Homo sapiens: one gene and its partner. The protein of the gene in region 1 interacts with the protein of each later gene in a pairwise test. Each region holds a gene or a part of one and is shown on either strand. Other genes may lie near its edges. The genes, in order: TAMM41 and GPI.

What was found.
Region 2: the proteins of TAMM41 (region 1) and GPI interact in binary tests that used the Homo sapiens proteins (3 or more experiments, as listed by UniProt).

What each region holds. Positions count from the first base shown.
Region 1 is NC_000003.12:11,843,886-11,855,277, reverse strand, and holds the start of TAMM41 (phosphatidate cytidylyltransferase, mitochondrial isoform a precursor), read left to right. Parts: upstream 1-8,392; 5' UTR 8,393-8,641; coding exon 8,642-8,776; intron 8,777-10,181; exon of another isoform or gene 10,182-10,375; coding exon of another isoform or gene 10,376-10,387; intron 10,388-11,066; coding exon 11,067-11,249; intron 11,250-11,392. UniProt on the Homo sapiens protein: Catalyzes the conversion of phosphatidic acid (PA) to CDP-diacylglycerol (CDP-DAG), an essential intermediate in the synthesis of phosphatidylglycerol, cardiolipin and phosphatidylinositol.
Region 2 is NC_000019.10:34,358,901-34,370,175, reverse strand, and holds the start of GPI (glucose-6-phosphate isomerase), read right to left. Parts: upstream 4,981-11,275; 5' UTR 4,917-4,980; coding exon of another isoform or gene 4,910-4,916; coding exon 4,788-4,909; intron 3,832-4,787; coding exon 3,741-3,831; intron 3,394-3,740; coding exon 3,325-3,393; intron 1,594-3,324; coding exon 1,474-1,593; intron 1-1,473. UniProt on the Homo sapiens protein: In the cytoplasm, catalyzes the conversion of glucose-6-phosphate to fructose-6-phosphate, the second step in glycolysis, and the reverse reaction during gluconeogenesis.

The DNA of each region.
Region 1 (11,392 bases):
GAGCAAGACTCTGTCTCAAAAACAAACAAAAAAACAAACAAAAAAAAACTGCTGTTTAACTTTCTCTGGGTTATATTTACATACGTGTGCTATTAATATATGTTCCAAAATTGTGTAAGATTCCTTAAATTCTGATATGTCTTAGTATTTGTCATCAGGAATAATTCTGATTATTATGCTTAATTGCAGTATGCCACAAAAACAATCAAATTTCCTTGACAATTGTGTCTTTAACCATGAATATTGCCTTTCCTAACCACAGACAATTACTGTTTTACTTTGGTTATTCTCAAAAAGTGGTTTATGATCAGCTACAGCCCAAAATCTGCTTCTTTTAAAAAAAATCATAGAAAAGGCTCTGCCACAGACTTTTAAATACAGGTTTCTGATAACTTTAGCTATCATACCATTAGACTAGGAAAGAACTTCTAGGACTCTAACTAAAAGGCTGATGTGTTTATGAAGATAGCTAACTCAACATCAAGCAGAACAAGGTTAATTACATTGAACTAAACTAATAAAAGACTAAACTGATTTTTTCACAGCCTCTTTTTTAAAAAACATTGCCAGTCCTTTTAATGTTTTGTTTTCAGAGTCAAAAAACTTTTTTGTTTCAGCTATTCGTAGCTTATAACAAATGGGTAAAGTATACTTTTGTCAGCAAAATTTAAAACAGATATCTTTCTCTTTACCTGGTTTATTTGGAATTTAGAAACTATTTGTGAGTATTCTTAATTTATGACAATATAGTTATTTACATAAGTTCAGTAAGAATCTGTTTTCTTTTGTAACATGACACAATTAGAGAAACTGGTTATGTTACCAAGGCTTTGACTGGAATGACCTATTTTCAGATATGACCAGACTATGTTGAGGAATTGACATCGACTTTACAGTGCTAATAAAAAGCCCCTTGAAGAGATTGGCCTAGGCTAGGCATGGCAGCTCACCCCCATAATCCCAGCACTTTGAAAGGCCGAAGCCGTAGGATCACTTGAGGCCAGGTGTTCAAGACCAGCCTGGGCAACGTGGCAAGACCTTGTCTCTACCAAAAAAAAATAAATAAAAGCCAGGAGTGGTGGCATACATGTTTAGTCCTACCTACTTGAGAGATTGAGGCAGAGGAATGCTTGAGCCTAGGAGTTCAAGGCTGCAGTGAGCTATGATTACCACTGCACTCAGCCTGTGTTACAGAGGGAGGCCCTGTCTCAAAACAAACAAACAAACAAAAGATTGCCTGGTACCTTGTCTACATAGTTTCTTTACAAGATTCCTGACCTGTGGTAAGTAAAGAATATCACTTCCTAACAGGCCCAGGAAGCTCAAGATATTTTGGGACCCCAAAAAGAGAGGAATTTACCCAGGTGAAAGGTGTCATTGGTAAGTGGCAACTATCTGAGCTGGTGGCGTGGGGGTAAGAAGGCTTTACCAAGACAGTTGTAGGTAAAGAAAGGCAGATTTAGTAGAGAAAGTATGAAAGTACATTGCAAAGGAGCAACAGGCAGAATCAGCAAGAGAGAAGCTGACTGCAAGGAAACAAAGGCTTGCTGGAGATTTTATAGGATGGTTCTTTGCTGTGTACTGAAAAGAGCTTTGTGCAGTATTGATAACGCCAAGGTTACAGCGAGCTGTACAGGTGTCTAGTGATAAGTTGGGCACAGGAGGGCTACGTGTCCTGGACCACAAAGAAAGGCAGACTCATAGCTTATCTGCTTTCTTTCTTTCTTTGCTTTCCCGTGCTCTCACCAGCCTAACTCCTTTTCTCTAATTAGGACTTCACAAAAGGGTTACCCTGGAGGTTTGGAAAGTGTCATTCTAAACGCTTTGTAGGAAGTAAGTCTAGGAAGATTGTACCTAGAGTTTTGTCAGTTCTGGGTCTGAACAAAGACATCCTCAGAGTCCAAAGCGTAGAAATTCTTGGCTTTTTACACCCACAAGTTATAACCGTAATTCATGTGTTGAGAAATTCCCCAATCTCTCTCTTAGGCTATAGGATCCCCTGGTGCCTTCAGGCAAAAGAGGTCCGTGAAAATTAGTCTTGATTGGTTTGGGACACTGAGATGATTCTGGGACAGCAAGGGAGTGCTTGGCACCAGCGCTTCCTAAATTTATGCCACAGAATATGAATCCCAGAAGACACTGAGAGAGAAGGTGGAGGGAGCAGAGGATGGAGGAAAACCTAGTCTGGGAGATTGGAAAATGCTACATGTTCTGCTTCTCTCTTGGAGATTCACAATGCTTATTAATATATTAATGCTCGGAGGAATCCCACATCAAAGATCTCGATTTGCCTCTGTTTAATCCAGAATTTCCCAAACTTAGCTGATAGAATTTTTTATCAAATAACCCTCCTTGGGACAAGCTGCTTTACACCAAACCCAGATCGCAGGGGTTCATGCCAGAGACAGACTTGGTATATGGTAACTAATTCTTTCTCTTCTAACTCAGTTCTTTGCCAATTCAGTTTCTCCCAAAATTCAGGGCCAGTTCTACAGAGAGATAAAGTGGGCAGCTGCTGACCAGCTTGAATTTCAGGGATAGTGGAGAATCAGAAGGGTAAACACATACGTAGTACTCACTACATGTCAGAGATTGATCTAACCAGCTTAGTTGTCATGACAACTCTGGGAGGTAGACGCTCTTATTATCCCCATTTTATACTTGTGGAAACTGAGACACAGAGCCAACTTGCACCAGGTCACACAGATCATCAGTGGCTGAGAATTGAAACCAAGCAGTCTCAATCCAGATTCCACATTCTGCCTCTCAGATGAGATACCTGCTCTGTTCTTTGGAATTCCACCATTATTTATTCATTTCTTTGGTACTGTAAAAGTCCATGGTCTTCCTGAACTCCACTGGAAAACTCAGTGTCCCCCTAGAAGGAGGATTCTAAGACCCAGTATGGAGGCAATTCTTTCTTCTTAGAATTTTTTCACGGTGTACTCTCTGGTGAACTGCTGGTCATCTTCCAAGGTCTAATCCAAATGTCATCCCTCTAAGAAGCTTTCCCAGAAACCCTGAAGAAAAAGTAACCCCTGCTGTCTTACCATTGCGGTGGTATAGATCTGGTTTATACTCTCCATAGTGTATTTTTTTTTGCATGCATGTGAATTTTTTGCCACCAGACTATAACATTTGCAAATGCAGAAATTTTGTTTCAGGCACTGTACTAGGCACTAAAGGACAGAAAGATTAATAAGATATGGTTCCTGACCTCAAAGGGCCCCTAAGCCTTTTATAATTGTACTTGATGGACATATCTGATATTTAAGACAAGAGCTAGAGAGCTAAAAGCAAAGGGTTAGGAAGGCACAGAGAACAGAACACTTTGATAGCTGAGCTGGGACTAAAGGATGAGGAAGGTTTCAATGGGAGAATGAATCAATGAATGAATGGGTCCCTTGGTGAAATGAACACCCCGTGTTATTTTTCTCGTGCAAGAGGAAAGGGATTGGACTTGGAGGCTGTATTAGCAGCTGCCATTAGCCCTGTGACTTCAGGCACATCAATTCTTTTTTCTAAGCTTCAGTTTATCCATCTGTAAAACTGAAATAGTAGCTACTAATTTCCCAGGATTTGTTTTAAGAGCTAAATAAAATCATGTCTGCAAAGTGCTTTGTGTAAAATGCTAAACGCCATAAAGATGTAGGTATAATTATGCTTCTTAATTCCTTTTGTACATTGTCTCTTAAGAATTCAGGAGGATGTCCTCCGTTTATTGAAAGCTTACTCCAGGCACTATTCTATGTACTTTCTAGATACTGTTTCATTTGCTGTCACAACAACCCTGTGAGTGAGGTGTCATTACTCTCCCCAGGCTGCAGATGAGGAAAGGAAAGCACAGAGAGGCTAAGTCTTCTTGTCCAAGGTCACACAGCTATTAAATCCTGGGGCCTGGATTCCAACCCAGGTGGTACCTTCAAGCCCCTGATCAGACACTAAAGATGTATTAAGATGCTCTCAGTTGGCTGGGCATAGTGGCTCACGCCTGTAATTCCAGCACTTTGGGAGGCCTAGGTGGGTGGATTGTTCGAGCTCAAGGGTTCAAGACCAGCCTGGACAACATGGTGAAACCCCATTCTCTACAAAAATACAAAAATTAGCCTGGTGTGGTAGTACATGCCTGTAATCCCAGCTACTCAGGAGGCTGAGGTGGGAGGATCACTCGAGCCTGGGAGGCAGAGGTTACAGTGAGCCGAGATCGTGCCACTGCACTCCAGCCTGGGTGACAGAGTGAAACCCTGTCTCAAAAAAAAAAAAAAAAAAAAAAGAAAAGAAAAGAAAAAAAGAAAAGAAAAGAAAGAAAAGAAAAGAAAAAACGAAAAAATGCTCCCAGTCTGTCCCAGTTCTAACCATCAATCAGCCGAGAATGGACAAATGGGACAGGGTGACCCACCTCTGACAAGATGGAGATCAAGACCCCTCTCCTTCCCCTCCATCAGCAGACCAATTGAACATGTGGCTAATTGTAAGAACCACTGAGCCTGGATTTTTATTCTTCCCCAAACATTTTTCTCTCCTGTACTTAAACACTGATTAGAAAAAAAAAAAAAAAGCATTAAAGCCATAGATGTTTTTTTACAGGGCTTTAAAAAAAATGGATTACATGGATTCGATGAACCTTCTCCTAGTGAAAGCCTGACAAGGTCATTATTAAGGAATACAAAGACAACTGCTAGATAAATCAGAAGAATGAGGCCCAATATTCACTCGAGTCACCAGGCATTTATCTATATTTGTAAGTGGCTCTCTAACATGTTTATTTCATTGGTATAAGCTTTCCAACAGAACCCTAAAGCGATTATATAGAACACTGGGTCTTCCTAATAGCCTCTAATTTCACAAGCCATGGTAATTTAAAAGAGAGTGGGTGGATGAAGGGCCAGGAGCAGGGAGATTTCTGCTGAAGAATACAAATGTGTTCGTGGCTACGTTGCTTCTGCCTCTTTCTGGGGAAAGGCAAAATGCACACAGGAATGTGATGGAACCTTCCAGCTGGTGGTTTTGCATTGCAGGAAGAAAAGTGTTTGTGAACATGAAAATTGCTGATAATTGGGTGTGAACGCCTGTAAGGGAGACAAATGGAGAAACATTGCAGCATCTTTATTTCTATCAAGGGCTGAACTCTGCTGGTGGGTGTGTGAATTGGCACCATCTTTTGGAGGGGAATTTAGCAGCGTGCTGACACTCTGACCCAGCAATTCCCCTTCTAGGAATCTGTCTTATAGCAATACTTGTTCATGCACATAAAATGTACAAGGATGCTCATGATAGCATTGTTTGCAGGTGTGAAAACTAGAAATAACCTACATCCATCAACAATAAAATGTTTAAACAGGCCAGGATGCCTGTAACCCCAGCACTTTGGGAGGCCGAGGCGGGTGGATCACTTGAGGTCAGGAGTTCGAGACCAGCCTGGCCAACATAGTGAAACCCCTGTCTCTACGAAAAATACAAAACTTAGCCAGATGTGGTGGCGGGCACCTGTAATCCCAGCTACTCAGGAGGCTGAGGCAGGAGAATCACTTCAACCCGGATGGTGGAGGTTGCAGGGAGCCTAGATTGTGCCACTGCACTCCAGCCTGGGTGACAGAGCAAGACTCGCTCTCAAAAAAAAAAAAAAAAAAAGAAAGAAACAAAAGAAAAGAAGAAAGAAAGAAAGAGAAAGAAAATGTTTAAACACTTTCTTTTAAACAAAAAATTTTAAACAAAATTATGGCATATCCATATCTTAGAATAATTTGCTACTAATACATGGAATGAGGGAAATCTATATATTCTGACACAGAACATTGTCCCTGATACGCTAAGTGCAAAAAAAGCAAATTGCAAAATAGTATCTATCCTAGGAATCCACTTAAAATTGTTTTTAATGTTAATATATTCATAGAAAAATATTGGAAGGAATATGTGCCAAAGATTACCGTGGCTATTTCTGGGGCATGATGTATGTATTTCATAATGTTTACATTTTTATGAACATGGATTACTTTTGCAAACAGGAAAAATCCAATGACGTTGAATTATTTCCCCAAGGGAAGGAAGGAAATAAAAAAGGAACCGGCTGGTAATGAGATTTATTCACTGTCTTTGGGTGAGAGGCTTCAGTGTAATTCCACGGTGAGTGCACTCTGATTCCGGCACCCTGGGCAAGGGCGATATGTAGTAAAAATGAACGGAAGTGACCATGCCCACACCAGGGGCCGCAGACAAACGGCCTCTCTCCGCTCCCTTGCCCTGGTCTCCTGCTTGTTGCTGCGGCTACTGCTGCTGCTCCTGACTCTTGGCTGATGCCTGAGTGCCTGCTTTCTTCCCATTTCCTTCTCTCACCCTGCAAGCCGCTGTAGAGGACACTTAAACATGGTGGTAAAGACCTTGGCCTTTAGAGGTAGGTAGCCCTAGGTTCAAACCCCGACTTCACCACTTTCCTGTGTGACTTTGGAACATTTACTGCTCCTCTTAGGACCTCTGTTTCCTCGTATGAAAAATATCATCATCTTAGAGAACCTGCCTCATAGGATCTCTGGAGTGATGAAAAGAAACAAGTATAAAAAGCCTGGGTGCAGTGGCTCACGCCTGTAATTCCAGCACTTTGGGAGGCTGAGGTGGGCAAATCACTAGAGGTCAGGATTTCGAGACCAGCCTGGCCAACACAGTGAAACCCCATCTCTACTAAAAATACAACAATTAGCCAGGCATGCTTGCTTGAACCCAGGAGGCAGAGGTCACAGTGAGCTGAGATCGTGCCACTGCACTCCAGCCTGGGCAACAGAGCAAGACTCGGTCTCAAAAAAAAAACAAAAACAGAAAAGCCCCAAAGAAGTCTAAAAAGTGCCTGGGCATACTAAGTGCTTAATAATGACACCTATTATTAGTATTATTGTCACCGAGTCCTTTCAATTCTTTCTTGGTTGAATTTTCCCATCTATCTTCTACCTGATAAACTCCTACCCAGCTTCCAGGCCTGGCTCAAAATGCCATCATTGTGAAACCTCTTCTGGTCCCTTTCCCCAACACCCAGAACTGACTGACGTTCCCATTGGAGGGACATTACATTCCGGCACTGTGCTGGGTACCTGGCTGCATTACCCAAATTCTACTCTGATTTGCAGTTCTGTCTCCTCTCCTCTACAGACCCCTAGCTCCTGCAGGGCAGCAGGCAGCTCAGATCTCTTCATCTCAGTGCAGGCCCAGAGTGTGAGTGCAAGTAATCATTTTTCCAATTGATTTAATCCCATCCCTGCTCCTAAGACCTTGGCCTAGCCGTTTCCAGTTCATGGGGGAACTATGATAACAACTGTCTAATCAGTCCCCCACAATTCAGGCTAACATGTGAATTACATAAGTCCTTGCTCAAAACCCTTCAAGGACAGAGCAGAATTTCCGAAAAAATCCCAGAGTTGGAGCCAGACCTGGGTTTAGCTCTAGTTTTGCCACAGGCTGATGTGATCCTATCACCTGGCTTTACCTCTCTAAGCCTTAGCTTGGCCATCAGTAAAACCAAGGCCCTCCTGCCACAGGGCACTAGAGGGTGCTCAGTGAGAAGTGCATGTGAAAATGTGTCAACATTACCTGAATGTTAGCTATTACTATTTCTATTATTTTTGAGAGGTAGTGTATTTTGGGGAGGAAGGAGAGGGTAGTTGAAAAAGTTTCTGTCCTGGAAGTCAAACCACCTCCTGAATGGTAATCTTCAGCAAGTTTCTCCAGTTATACAAAGAGGAGAGCTGTAAGATTTTTCTACTCCTAGGGTCCTGTTTCCTCCAGAAACTGCATTTGAAGCACCCTTTGTGAGACCATTCCACAAGGCAAGGGGGCAAAAACTGTGATCCACCCTTGAAATTAAATGCAAGTATCAGAGAACGTCTGTGCACTCCCATATCCACCCTTGTATTTGAAAAGGGCTTTAGCGTGAAGAAGTCTCCGTCAAATCTTGACGGTGGTATTCTCTACATGGCGGGATTGGGCATCATTTTAATTTTGTGTTTTTCCAAATCTTCGAAATCTGCAATTTTGGAACTAGAGCGATGATGGGGGCACAATATTGTGAAGGCACTACATGCTACTACACTGTCCATTTCAGAACGGCTAGTTCCATATTATGTGAGTGTCGCCTCACTTAAAAACCTTCAATACGCTCCCGATTTTATAGTCATTCTTTAAACCGTAGTTTGAAGAGAGAAGTACAGAGGCTATCAAGGCTCAGGGCCCGCGGAGTCGGGTGACGCTCGCCTCCGCCGATTTGTCCAAGTCGCAACCTAGCCGCCAGCCTGTAGGGCACTCCTCCGACCACGAGGGGACAATGCAAAGCCTCGCGTTCCCCACACTAAGGCGAGCACCGCCTCTTGCGTCTTGGAAGCGCCTGTGCGTGCGTGGGGCGTAGCAAGGGACGGAAGCTCTGCCTGTGCGACCGCCGCCCACCCGAGCCTATCTGGGCTGCGTCTTCTCGCCGCTGCTCTTCGTGGCCCAACGCCCCAATCCTTGCGTGTGCTTGCAGTCCCACCCCACACTCAGCCTTGTGTCCCTCGATCCAGTCTCCGACTTCCATTTCCCACCCTAAACCGCCTACCCGGTGTCTGTTCCCCGCCCGGTTGTCCTCGCCCTGCTGCGCTGAGTGTCCCCTGTTAGCCTCGACCCCATGGCGCTGCAGACGCTGCAGAGCTCGTGGGTGACCTTCCGCAAGATCCTGTCTCACTTCCCCGAGGAGCTGAGTCTGGCTTTCGTCTACGGCTCCGGGGTGTACCGCCAGGCAGGGCCGAGTTCAGACCAGAAGGTGAGCCCGGGCAGCCCCACGACGGGGAACTGTCTGTTCTCACGAGTCCCGTTTTGCCCTCGATTCCTTCAGAGTCGGAGAGCTGCCTGTCCGCTCTGCACACTCCACGTGTCCACTAGCAGAGTGAACCATAGGCCTGCCTTCCTAGTATAACGACAGCGCGAGTTGAAGCGACGGTGTTGAAGGATACTTAGGAATCCACGTGGGTCTAGAGCAGGAGAAGCAGTTAGGCAGAAGGAAAAACTGCTGCAGGGGCAAATGGAAGAAAGGAAAAGAAATCGTTATCAGGTTCTTTCAGTGTTTTAGTCGGCTGGACATCGGAATTTTCTGGGGAGCTTTTAAGAAAATCCTAATGCTCGGCTTCCGCCGATGGAGATTCTGATTTAATTGGTTTGGGATGAGGCCTGGGCTTCAGGAATTTAAGAAACGTCCCAGGTGATTCTAATGCGCAGCCAAGTTTGTTGAGAGTCACCTCTATAAATGTAGGAGAAAATGCAAAATGATCTTCTGACTTCAGGAAGTTGGCGGACTGGTTGTAGGGCCAGGGCAGGTGCAGTGAAAGTAACTAACATCAAAAGTTAGTGCGTGACCAGTGTATTTACCCTCGCTCAGCACTTTTAACAACGGTCTGTTTGAGACTAGGCATTGTTACTTTTCAGAGTTGGCTCAGCACAGCCTCAGTAAGGGTACAGTTTTCCTTGTAATTTGCAGAATTCAGTGTGCAGGTTTTAATGGGGCCCCCTGCGTCTGGATACCTGACTGTAGTCTGTCTTCTGATTAACATCCTGCCTGTTCACTTCCTGGTGAGGCCATCTATGCTGTTGCTTGGATTTCCTCTGTTTCCCACTTACACTACTATTTAATATTTTTCTTTAAATTGGCAGCATATGAGAAATTATAGGTTATTATAGGCTAGTTATTTTTCCCGAATTTACCTTAACATAATTACACATTTTTAAAAAACATGTTTATTCCATACCTGCCTCGCCACCAAATCTCAAGTGTCCCCAGTGGTCTGTAGAGTCACACTCTACAGAGCAGGCGTTAGCCTCCTGATGGCCACCTCTTCATTCTTCCATGGAGGTTTTCCTTTGAATAGACCTGGAATTCCCTGCAAGAAAAGGTCCTTCCTTCCCATTCCCTCACTTTTGATTCCTTACATTCAAGTGAACAAGTTGTAGATTCCAACACCTACATCTTTCTCACATCAGTCCCCATCCTTAGCGCCTTAGCTAATATAATTTCATTTCTCCCCTGGAATCTTGCCATGGCTTCAGATCTAATTCCCCCACCCCCTTAGTCCCTCTTCTCTCCAGTCAGCTCTTCTGCAGGAAAATTTTCTAGCATGGCAAACAGCCTCCCTCTCTGATCTCATCTCCCACCGCATAAATGTGTTCTATTTCAGTCATATCTGACGGCAGCTTCCAGAACATGCTGGCTCCCATATCCACAGAGCACTTTCCTCCAACACGGCTCCCTACCCTTCCCTGTGCTTCCCCCAGTGCTTCCAGCAAGTCTGTTTAACTCACGTGTCCTTCAAGACTCAGATTTGTCATCTCTAGGAGAATTTCTCCCTCCTGTGCCCCTGATCTGATCCCTATGCTGAGTGCAGTTAGTACATTTTGCATTCCTCTATCAAGTCAATGTAGTGATAATTTGTTTATTCTCTCCAGTAGACTCTGAGCTCTATACTTCTACCCTAGGGCCTGTCAGAGTTCATTACTTATGTACTCAATAAGTGGTTGGTGAATAGGTAAGAGATAAAATAACTGACTTCCTTTTATATAGTATTTTGTAGAGTTTATCCAGGTGGTGCTAATTTGATCCAGAAGAAAAGCGGAGCACATTTAGCTACATTTGTGAAAGGCAGTGTAGTGCAGTGGTTCAGCACACACAGTTTGGAGCCAGACCTCTTAGGTCTGCCACTCACAAGCTCTGTGTCCTTGGGCAAAGAGCATCCCCTGTGCCTTGGTTTCTTATAAAATTGAGATAATAGCAGTAGCTACCTTGTAGGGTTGTGCTGAGGATAAATGGAGTGACTGCGTATGTTACCCATAAAGTGTTTAAAGAGTGCTGGCACAACAATACATGTTAAAGAAGTGTTTGCTATTATTACATTGATGAAAACAAAGCTCATATTTGTTCCAGAGACTCGCTCACATTTCTGATGACAGCACCAGGCCTTCTGACTATTGATCATAATTGCGTAGTATGTTAGAGCTTTTCCATGCTCTCTTGCTGCCTTTCTAGGAATTAATACTGAAATTATTCTCTTTTCTTCACTCCACAGAATGCTATGCTGGACTTTGTGTTCACAGTAGATGACCCTGTCGCATGGCATTCAAAGAACCTGAAGAAAAATTGGAGTCACTACTCTTTCCTAAAAGTTTTAGGGCCCAAGATTATCACGTCCATCCAGAATAACTATGGCGCTGGAGTTTACTACAATTCATTGATCATGTGTAATGGTAGGGTAAGTGACTGCTGGCCTTTGTCTTAACTTGGCTGGTTATTTACCTGGGTTATTAGAGTGCCAGCTAAATATGTATGTTCTTGTGGTCAGGAAACATTCACACTCCTGCTGGACGTTGTTATAGTCGGGAAATATGTATGTTT
Region 2 (11,275 bases), on another chromosome or scaffold:
CTGGTCTCTGAGGCAACCCCTACCACCCTACACACAAGGAAAAGAAGGCATGTTACATGCACTGTCACTGACACACGGACACTGCTTACATACTTCCAGGTGGAAATAAGCTTCAGAGGAGCAGGGAGAAAACCAACCTGTGTGCATGTGCACATGTGTACGTGTTTCAAAGAGGAGATGACAGATGTGTATGTGCACAGGAACTTTCTGGAAGACTTCACAGGAAAACTTTTCTATTTTTTAAATTTATTTAGAGACACGATCTTGCTGTCGCCCAGGCTGCAGTGCAGTGGTGTCACCATGGCTCACTGCAGCCTCAACTTCCCAGGCTCAAGCCATCCTCCCACCTCAGCCTCCTGAATAGTTGGGAATAGAGGTATGAGCTGCTGCGCCTGGCTACAGGAAACTTTACAAAGGCTGCTTCTGGAGGGTTAGCTGGGAATGGGGATGAGGAAATTTTTTTTTTTTTTTGACAGAGTCTCCCTCTGTCGCCCAGGCTGGAGTGCAGTGGCGCAATCGCAGCTCACTGCAACCTCTGCCGCACGGGTTCAAGCGATTCTCCTGCCTCAGTCTCCCAAGTAGCTGGGATTGCAGGCGTATGTCACCAAAACTGGCTAATTTTTGTATTTTTAGTGGAGATGGGGTTTCACCATGATGGCCAGGCTGGTCTCGAACTCCTTACCTCAAGTGATCCACCCACCCCGGCCTCTCAAAGTTCAGGAATCACAGGCATGAGCCATCGCGCCCAGCCAGGGTTGAGGAAATTTTACAATGTTTTATCTGTTTCTAGACTGGGTGATAAGGGCGTATGACAAAAGAGATTAGAAAAAGCTCCTTCCGGCCAGGCGCAGTGGCTCATGCCTGTAATCCCAGGTGAGGCAGGCAGATCACCTGAGGTCAGGGGTTTGAGACCAGCCTGGCCAACATGGTGAAATCCCGTCTCTACTAAAAATACAAAAATTAGCTGAGCAGGGTGGCGCATAATTGTAATTCCAGCTACTCGGGAGGCTGAGGTAGGAGAATAGCTTGAATCCAGGAGGCGGAAGTTGCAGTGAGCTGAGATAGCACGACTGCAGTCCACTCTGGGCGAGAGAGTGAGACTCCATCTCAAAAAAAAAAAAAGAAAAAAGAAAAAGCTCCTTCCTTTCCTGACTGTCCTGTCTCTCAGGGGCCCCACTTTTCATTTGAAGCCTCTGTGGTTTGTCACCATGAGTCCATAGGTGTCTACAATTCAGGAAAGAAACTGGCCCCACTTCTGCCAGCAGCAGATTCCTTCAGAGCAGAGCCAGGAGAAATTCAGGCCTCAGCAGAGACTCCAGGGTCAGCGATCACACAGGCAACCCCTCCCTTAAGCTGCAGTGAGAACCTGAGTCCTGCCTACAAGAAGAGGGAAGAGCTGCCCCTTAGGGCTCCCAGATTCCCAAATAACTCACACACACGGCCAAGGGTGAGTCCGGCCCAGTAGCCACTTACCTGGCAGAAAGACTTCATCTTGTCCAGAACCTTGTTGACCTCTGGCATCACATCCTTGCCGTCTACCAGGATGGGTGTGTTTGACCGGTTCCGCAGAGCCACGTGCAGCACGGCTCGACCCTGGGGATTACGGTCAGGATATAAAGACTGCCCCCCCCAACCCCAGGCAGCCATGCTCCCAGCTGGGCATGGTGCCATAGCTCGGCCCTCTATCCACTAGACAGGCAGGCCCTGAGGTCTCTGTTAGCACCATAACCTTGTTCCAAGAACCCACTGTATGCTTAGAGGAGTAGGAGCTCCCCAAGGACTTATGTGCTGCAGACAGTCAGGAGGAGAGGAGGGGACCCATATATGCCTAGGACAGGCCCCGAAGGCCTGCCAGAGATGCTCAGGGCATGAACAGTGAGAGAAAAGAGGAACAGTGAGCAAAGGCAGAGAATGGCAACAATACATGTCAGAAACAAGCAATAAATGCTTTCAGAGGCCGGGCGCCATGGCTCACGCCTGTAATCCCGGAACTCTGGGAGGCCATGGCAGGTGGATAACTTGAGGTCATGAATTCGAGACCAGCCTGGCCAACATGGTGACATCCTGTCTCTACTAAAAATACAAAAATCAGCCAGGTGGGGGTGGCACACACCTGTAGTTCCAGCTACTCAGGAATCTGAGGCAGAGAATCGCCTGAACCCATTAGACAGAGGTTGCAGTGAGCCAAGATCGCACCACTGCACTCCAGCCTGGGCGACAGAGCAAGACTCCATCTCAAAATAAATAAATAAATAAACGCTTTCCGAAGATGAGTGCTCATGAAGCCTGAAGTAACCTCATCCTCCCAATGTGTGTCCATGGTGTTTGCTGGCACGTTTTAGGCAGTGTCCTCAGCTCCTTGGATTTGCAGCAAGGCATGCAACTCAAGCTTCCCTCACCAAGCAGCCCGATAACTACCAACTGCCAGGAACCAAACCAGACTTGAAGTCTGTGACGGGTGCCAGGCGGCTGGCCCAGCCACGTGAGTGAAATGGCCTGAAGTCAGCAGAGGAGTCCTTGAGGGAAGGTCTAACGACCCCAGGTGGGCAGGAAAAGGATCATCTTGGGATTCCGACCCAGTGAGAGGCTTGCTAAGGTGGAGGGCTTCATGCCACCCCACCCTCACCCTGCCAGACCCCACTCCTGCGCCACATTTTATTGGCAAATGCACTCCTCCAGAAAGCCTTCCTTGATTGCATCCTCTCTCAGCTTAGACCCACAATGCAAGACAGGTTGAGTGTGAATCTCCATTCTGCCTCTTACAGCTATGACATCTTAGATAAGTGATGTGACCTCTGAACCTCAGACTCCTCACATGTAAGAGGAGGATAATGACATCATGAGGACAGAGTCTGGGTGCTCAGTGTCCATTATACCTCCAGGCTGGGCTCCCATACTGAGTCAGGAACAGGGGCCCCCAGGCCTGGCCTCACCACTGCTTCCTATTGACTCCTACTGCTTGAGTAGGCTGAAGTCTTTGGTGATCTAAGATTCTTCTTGTCGCTACTAAAACTTGCATTGAGGATATATTAGAGTTAACTTCTCCAAGAAAATGTCAGCCTTGAGAAACTCTCCCTGTGGGTATGAGATATGCTCCTCCCAGGCAGACACTGGGAACCATTCCAAGGAGCTCACCAAACCAATCTTGTGGAAGGCACACCCCAAAGCCCTGCTACAAGCAGGAGGAAAAAGGCCTTCAGGCCCCTCATTAAGCAAAAGCATTGCCCAAGAGAAGGGGTGAAGACACAGGGTGATGCGGCTAACAGTCAGATAAACCCCAAAGGGAAGGAAGGAGGCCCCAGAGGGTATGTGGGGCCTGCTCACCTCGGTGTAGTTGATCTTCTCACCATTGAACATCCGCTCCCGGGCGGCCTCCACGCCCCTGGACTTGGCCTAGGAAGAGACGATACTGAGGCCTGGTCCCACCCACACTGGCCACCCCAAGTGTCAGCCCCCAAACACAAGGCTTGGTGCTGTCCCCAATGAGACAGACAGACGGCTGCTGTCTGGTTCCCTCCCCTGCTGTCTGGGAAGGGTCTACTCAGACATCAGACACTGGGGTCCCTGGGATGCTGCTTAGAACCTAAGCCAGGGACAGGTGCCTCACCAGCACAGAGGAGGTGACTGAGGTCTAATGAGAGGAAGAACTCAAGATACTCAAGGTCCTGGGGACTCCCAGGAGCCCAGCTCACCCACCACTCTGTCGGTTACCAGTTATGCCTCCCCAAGCAGAACATTACCAAGTCCACCAGCATCCGCATCACGTCCTCCGTCACCAGGTTCTTGGAGTAATCCACCAGGATATGCCCATGGTTGGTGTTGAGGGTCAAGCTGCAGAAAGATGGAGATGCTGCTGACCACACCCTGGTCTCCCTAGCGGGGAGCCATGCCCTAAGCAGGAGCTGTTCCCAGAAGAAACATCCTCCCTGACCCACGCCCCACAAGGGCCGCGGCCACCCAGCACAGTGGTGGTGTCTGTCACCTGCTGGCCCACCAGGATGATCTGCAACAGCAGCCCAGAGAAAGAAGCCATCCTCACAGACCGTAGATGCAGGCAGACCCTGGATGAGGAGCCCGGACTGAAGTGGGGGACCACCCCTTCCCAGGGCTTCCACTTTCTGCCGTAAGTTACTCAGGCACCCATCCAGATGACAGGGATGGCCATCGGGACGTCTAGCCCGGAGCCACAGTCGCTCCCCTCCCCCGCCTCCACCAGTATCAGTGATCAGAGCTCCCTTGGCCGCACTCCCGCCCATGATTTGCTCAAACACTCCTTCCCACTTCCCGGTCGTGCACAGGTGTCTTCTGCAGGAATCACGCCCGACGTCTCCATCCTTCCACCCAGCTCCCTCAAACACCCCCGCCCGGGCTGCCCGCCCTGCAGACGCTCCCAAGCTCATGTGGCCAGGAGCGGATGGAAAGGGACAGCCCTTTCCCGCTTGCTGCGTCAGCCAAGGCCTCTCTTCACAACTGCGAAAGGAGCCCCTGCTCAAATGGCCAGAGCTGCACGGGGAGGAGGAGGGGAAATGTCCCCACGGAGGGGCCCGTTTTTCCTCGTAACGAAGCAGACCCGGGGCCGAGACTCCCGGCGAGGCTGCAAGCCCCCAGGAACGCACTCCAAGGAGACTCCAAGGACGAAGTGCGGACTCGGCCTGGGCCCCAGTCCGTGGCCTGGAGGTCGGGGACTGGGGTCCCCGGGCACCGCTGCCCCCGCCTCCAGACCCCAGGCCCGCGTGCCCGGTTCCGGGCGCCGCGCGTGGCAGCCCCCGCCTCCGGCCCGCCCGCACCTGAAGTGGTTGAAGCGGTCCTTGTTGGCATCGAAGAGGCGGCGCAGGTTCAGCTCGGAGCGGTGCTCGCGGTACCATTGCTGCAGCTTCTGGAACTGGGGGTCCCGGGTGAGAGCGGCCATGGCGGGACTAGAAGGTACACTGAGTGAGACGCGAGCCGAGGAGGAAGGAGCGCCGGCAGCGCGCAGCAAGCGAGGCGCGTGGGCGCGCGGCGGCCTTTATGGCGCAGGCGCCCGGCCCGGCCCGGCCCGGCCCCACCCCTGAGCCCCGGCCCCGCCCCCGACCCGCGCCCCGATACCCAGGCCGGGTGCCCGCTGAGCGACCTTGCCCGCGGCCGCTGATCTGGGGCCTCAGCTCCTCTCTCCCTACCTCTTGCGCCGCCGCTTTGCTGGCCTCTGCCCGGAAGTGGCAGTGGGGAGGGTGGGCAGAGCCCGGGGATCACTGGAGCCCAGGTGTTGGAGGCTGCAGAGAGCTACCATCGCGCCGCTGCACTCCCTGTGCACTAGTCGGCTTCATTCATTCATTCGACAAAACTCTATAGATCGAACACCTTCCACGTTACAGGCAGTGTTCTAGGCGCTGTGGATACATATGTGCCAAATAAGCAAGTACAACAGATGATGTGTGTCTGCTGGTGGTAAGGGCTATTGAGGAAAACCAAGATGAAAAGGGTGCTGAGAATCGGGGTTGCAATTAAGAAAAAAGTGACTAGGCCGGGCGCGGTGGCTCACGCCTGTAATCTCATCACTTTGGGAGGCCGAGGCAGGCGGATCATGTGAGGCCAGGAGTTCCAGACCAGACTGGCCAACCTGGTGAAACCTCATCTCTACTGAAAAAAAAAATGCAAAAATTAGCCGGGCCTGGTGACACGTGCCTGTATTCCCAGCTAACTCGGGAGGCTGAGGCAGGATAATCACTTGAACCTGGGAGGTGAAGACTGCAGTGAGCCACTGTACTCCAGCCTGGGTGGCAGAGTGAGACTCCATCTCAAAAAAAAAAAAAAAGATGAGGTCAGAGAGCAAAAGGGAGGCAACAAGATCACGTAAGACCTTGTAAGTCATTGTAAGAACTCTGGGGCTGGGCACTCCTGCCTATAATCCCAGCACTTTGGGAGGTGGGATAGCTTGACGCCAGGAGTTCAAGCCGAGCCTGGGCAAGACAGCAAAACACTGCTTCTAAAATACTAAAAATAAATTAGCGGGGCATGTGGTGGTGCATATCTGCAGAGTCCCAGCTACTCGGGAGGCCAAGGCAGGAGGATCACTTGAGTCCAGGAGTTAGAGGCTGCCGTGATTACCACCACTGTACTCCAGCTTGGGTGACACAGCAACACCTTGTCTTAAAAAAAAGAAAAGAAAAGAAAAGAAAATAGGGAAAGGCTGACAACAAAAGAAATAAGTGGTCACTGAGGGGTCACAGGACTTTCCAGGGAACAGCCCTGTCCACATGGCCCTTTTCTAAGAACTGTCAACTCTTAAGATTTCACTGAGCTTCCACACCTAGCACAACCCTGGTAGTGCTGAACAGTATCTGTTCTACTGGAGTTCTTTTTTTGTTTGTTTGTTTGTTTGAGATGGAGTCTCGCTCTGTCACCAGGCTGGAGTGCAGTGGCGTGATCTCAGCTCACTGCAACCTCCACCTCCCTGGTTCAAGCGATTCTCCTGCCTCAGCCTCCTGAGTAGCTGGGACTACAGGCGCACGCCACCACACCCAACTAATTTTTGTATTTTTAGTAGAGATGGAGTTTCACCATGTTGGCCAGGATGGTCTCAATCTCTTGACCTCATTATCCGCCTGCCTCAGCCTCCCAAAGTGCTGGGATTACAGGCATGAGCCACTGCGCCTGGCCTCTACGGGGGTTCTGAGAAACACTCCAATCAGGGTTTTCTAAGCCAGTTACTCATCTACACAGAAGAGAATTCCCACCCCAAATCCTCTGTTTCAGAACAAAACCTCAACCAATGGGAAGGCGAGTCTCAGTAGCCACTGCCCCATTATCACTTACCCTGTGATTCCTCAGATGACTCTAGCCCAATAGTAACCACTGACTCCCTCTGACTCCTCCTTCTTTTTTTTTTTTTGAGACAGGGTCTCACTCTGTCACACCCAGGTTGGAGTGCAGTGACACGATCTTGTCTCACTACAGCCTCTGCCTCCCAGGCTCAAGCGATCTTTTCAACTCACCCTTCTGAGTAGCCAGGACTACAGGTGTGCACCACCATGCCCAGCTAATTTTTTCCTTGTAGAGACAAGCTTTGTTATTTTTTGTACAGACGAGGTTTCATCATGTTGCTCAGGCTAGTCTCGAATCCTTGGGTGCAAGTGATCTGCCTGCCTTGGCTTCCCAAAGTGCTGGGATTACAGGCATGCAGCACTGCACCTGCAAACTGAGACTGCCTTTTTCTAGTAGGTTATTTTGGTGACCAGATGGACGGCTGTTGTTCTTTGTCTAAAACCATCCTCTCCCACCCGTGTTTCTACCCCTGCCTGAATCCATCAGAGATGAGCACATAACTTATGCCAGCTAAACAGGGTCCTTTTCCAGGGCCCTGCAGCCAGCAGCAGAAAGTCTCTGCTTTTTATGGTGTTAAGCTGCCTGTCAGAAAGGACAGACCTGAGCTCTAGCCCCTGGTCTTGAGGAAAATAACGAAGAGAATGATCCCCACAGAGATGTCAGAGTGAATCTCACAGTGCCCAGGTTCCTGGGGCCAGGCCACCTCTACCTGCAGCTAGAATGTAAACCAACGATTCCCTTTAGTGTCTGTTTGGAGTTCAGTTGTCATTCACAACTCCAAGTCTTTCCAAAGATGTTACGGGTGTTCACCTTTCCACTGCCACAGTCTTGTCCAGTGTCCTCTCCCGACCACCAGGAACCCTAGAAACAGCTTTGGGTATTGCGAAAGAGGCAGGAGGTGAGGCCTCTGATGATTGCCATTTCAAAGGTTTCCCCTGCCTTTTAATCTTCCATAATGTACACCTCTGCAACTTGGCCTCTGTGATTCCCAGAAGCTTCAACTATTCCAGATTTCACATTTACTTTGAAACTCCAGTTACATGGATTTTCTTTTTTTCTTCTTTTTTTTTGAGATGAAGTTTCACTCTTGTTGCCCAGGCTAGAGTGCAATGGCACGATGTTGGCTCACTGCAACCTCTGCTTCCCTGCAACCTCCACCTCCCAGGTTCAAGCAATTCTCTTGCCTCAGCCTCCCTAGTAGCTGGGGTTACAGGCACCCGCCACCTCACCAGGCTAATTTTTTTTTTTTTTTTTTTTTTTTGAGATGGAGTCTCCCTCTATCACCAGGCCAGAGTGCAGTGGCACCATCTCGGCTCACTGCAACCTCCGACTCCCTGGTTCAAGCAATTCTCCTGCTTCAGCCTCCCGAGTAGCTGAGATTACAGGCATGCAACACTACGTCCAGCTAATTTTTGTATTTTTAGTAGAGTTGGGGTTTCACTGTGTTGACCAGGATGGTCTCGATCTCCTGACCTCGTGATCCGTCTGCCTCAGCCTCCCAAAGTGCTGGGATTACAGGCGTGAGCCACTGCACCCGGCCTAATTTTTGTATTTTTAGTAGAGATGGGGTTTCACCATGTTGGCCAGGGTAGTCTCGAACTCCTGACCTAAGGTAATCCACCCACCTCGGCTTCCCAAAGTGCTGGGATTACAGGCATGCAACACCGCGCCCAGCCTGGATTTTCTATGTTAGCAGGAAACTAGGTTCCTATCTGGTGGGCCATAAATCACAGTGGCTACAGGGAGAAAGCACAGAAAAGTAAGAAGAAAAGTCTAATCCAAAGCCATTTTGGATTAGAAAGTACTAATCCAAAGCCATTCATCATCATACTACAAAACTACCAACACGGCCACTACTCCAGCCAGGTTTACTACGTGCACAGCTCCATGCTAAATCCTTTCCATGTATCCCTCATGGCAGTCCTATGAAGGATACCCTGTTGTCCTCCCCATTTAACAGAGAGGTTAAGAAATGTGAAATGAGGCCGGGCACGGTGGCTCACGCCTGTAATCCCAGTACTTTTGGAGGCTGAGGTGGGTGGATCACGAGTTCAGGAGTTCGAGACCAGCCTGAGCAACATGGTGAAACCCCCGTCTCTACTAAAAATACAAAAAAATTAGCTGGACGTGGTGGCGGGCACCTGTAATCCCAGCTACTTGAGAGGCTGAGGCAAGAGAATGGAGTGAACCCAGGAGGCAGAGCTTACAGTGAGCTGAATCATGCCACTGCACTCCAGCCTGGGCGACAGAGCGAGACTCTGTCTCAAAAAAAAAGGAAAGAAAGAAATGTGAAACAAGGCCGGGTGCAGTGACTCACACCTGTAATCCCAACACTTTGGGAGGCCGAGGCAGGTGGATCACTTGAAGCCAGGAGTTTGAGACCAGTCTGGCCACCATGGTGAAACCCTGTCTCTACTAAAATTACAAAAATTAGCCAGGCGTGGTGGCGGACACCTGTAATCCCAGTTACTGGGGAGGCTGAGGCAGGAGAATCACTTGAACCCGGGTGGCAGAGGTTGCAGCGAGCCAAGATCATGCCACTGCACTCCGGCCTGGGTCACAGAGTGACACCCTGTCTCCAAAAAAATAGAAAGAAAGAAATATGAAACAAGCCACTCTGCTCTTAACTAGAGAATCAACCCAGGCTGCCTGGTTCCTTCCTGAGACCTGTGCTCCTGCCAGTTCCTCTTCAGTCCTAGGAAAAAGGTGGAGGGAAAGTGGAGGAGCAGGCAATCCCTTTCTCCACTCCTCATCATCCCAGTTATGTCTTATTAGTTGAAACAGTGTCTCGCTCTGTCACCCAGGCTGGAGTGCGGTGGCATGACCATAGCTCACTGCAGCCTTGAACTCTGGGCTCAAGCGATTCTCTCACCTCGGTCTCCTGAGTAGCTAGAACTACAGGCATGACCACCCCGTCCCGGCTAATTTTCTTATTATTATTATTTGTAGAGACTGAGTTGCACTGTGTTGCCCAGGCTGGTCTCAAATTCCTGGCTTCAAGAGATCTTCCTGCCTCAGCCTCCCAAACTGTTGGGATTACAGGTATGCGTCACTGTGCCTGGCCATAAGGTCATTTTATATTCTGTTGTCTATCACCATCAGTACAATCACTACCATATGCTGAGCCAAGTCCTGCCGATCGCAGAGCTTAGGGCTCAGAATCCCCAGGATCCTGGGGGGTAGTGAAGCTGGGAGGGGTCATGCCCCCAGGCCAGGGACTGACCAAGGAGAATCGAAAGGAAACCTAGCCCAGAAATTCCAAGAGAACATGCTGCAGAGCCGGACACCTTCACGTGCCCCCAGCAAGATGATGTGGCCCTGAGAGAGGAGCGGACCAGAGGGTACACCTGACAGCAGAGGCAAGTTAGGAAGTCCGGGGACAGTCCTAACTCTGGATAGCAAAGATTTAATTTCAAGCATAAGGCAGCCCTGGAAAAGCAATTGACTGCCACTGAGTATTGATGAAGCTAGCACTTACTGCAGGCTGTGGCGGGCACAGTTCCAAACAAGAGCCCCGTTCTAAAGATGGGGAAACTGAGGTATCGGCATTTAGACATCACAGACCTTACTTCAGGGCCGCTGGACAGGGGTCAGGCAGGCCCTGGAGCACAGGTGGCCATGGGAGTGAAGGCAGAGGGACTGGGGCAGAGGACTGGTGGGGTGGTCAGTTCTGGGGCCTGAGCTGAAGAAGTCGGGAGCGGGGCGTGGCGTGGCGTTTCCACGCCCATGGATTTTAGACAGCTGTTCCGGGGGAGGAGGCGAGCCCACCGAGGATGCTGAGTCATGTTGACCGGCGAAGGCGAGGGGACCACGCCTCTGGAGCTACCGGGGTTGGCTCATCGCCTCCGGGGAGGCCACGGAGCAGGTGTAGGCGGGGTTGAGCGCAGGCGCGGATGGGGCGGGGGTAATGCGCACGCGTGTGCGTGTGGGCCAGCACGTCCGGGTGGTCAGGACGCGCGCTTGTGCGCATGTCCCCGCGCAGGGTCGGGCGCTGGGGTGTGGAGACTGAACCTTGCAGACACCCGGGTCCGCACGTCTGGGATGGACGTGGTGAGTGCACGTGCGCACGCGCTGCGTAGGGGCGGCTGCGCTCATGCGCACATCGGGAGTGGTGCTTGGAGAGGCCACCTACTCACCGCGCCCCCAAGAGGCCGGGGGTTTGTCCCTGGTGTTGGCCCTACCCTGCGCGATCCAGTCTTGTCGTTTCGGGGCTTCATTACCAGAGCCCCGTGAATCCTTTGCTAGATGCTTAAAAACATTTTCCCCATTGTACATAGCTGTTTCCACGAGAATAAAAAGCTTTACATTTATTTGAGGCCTGCTTGGGCCTATCCGCAGCTCCACCGTAGTGCTAATCCCCTCCCAGTCCTGGAACAGCCCAGATGATGTATTTAATAGTATTCTTTTAGCCCAACGCGAGAATGTTTTCGTCTGGTTGTTTTTGTTTTTCGTTTTTAGAGACAGTCTCGCTATA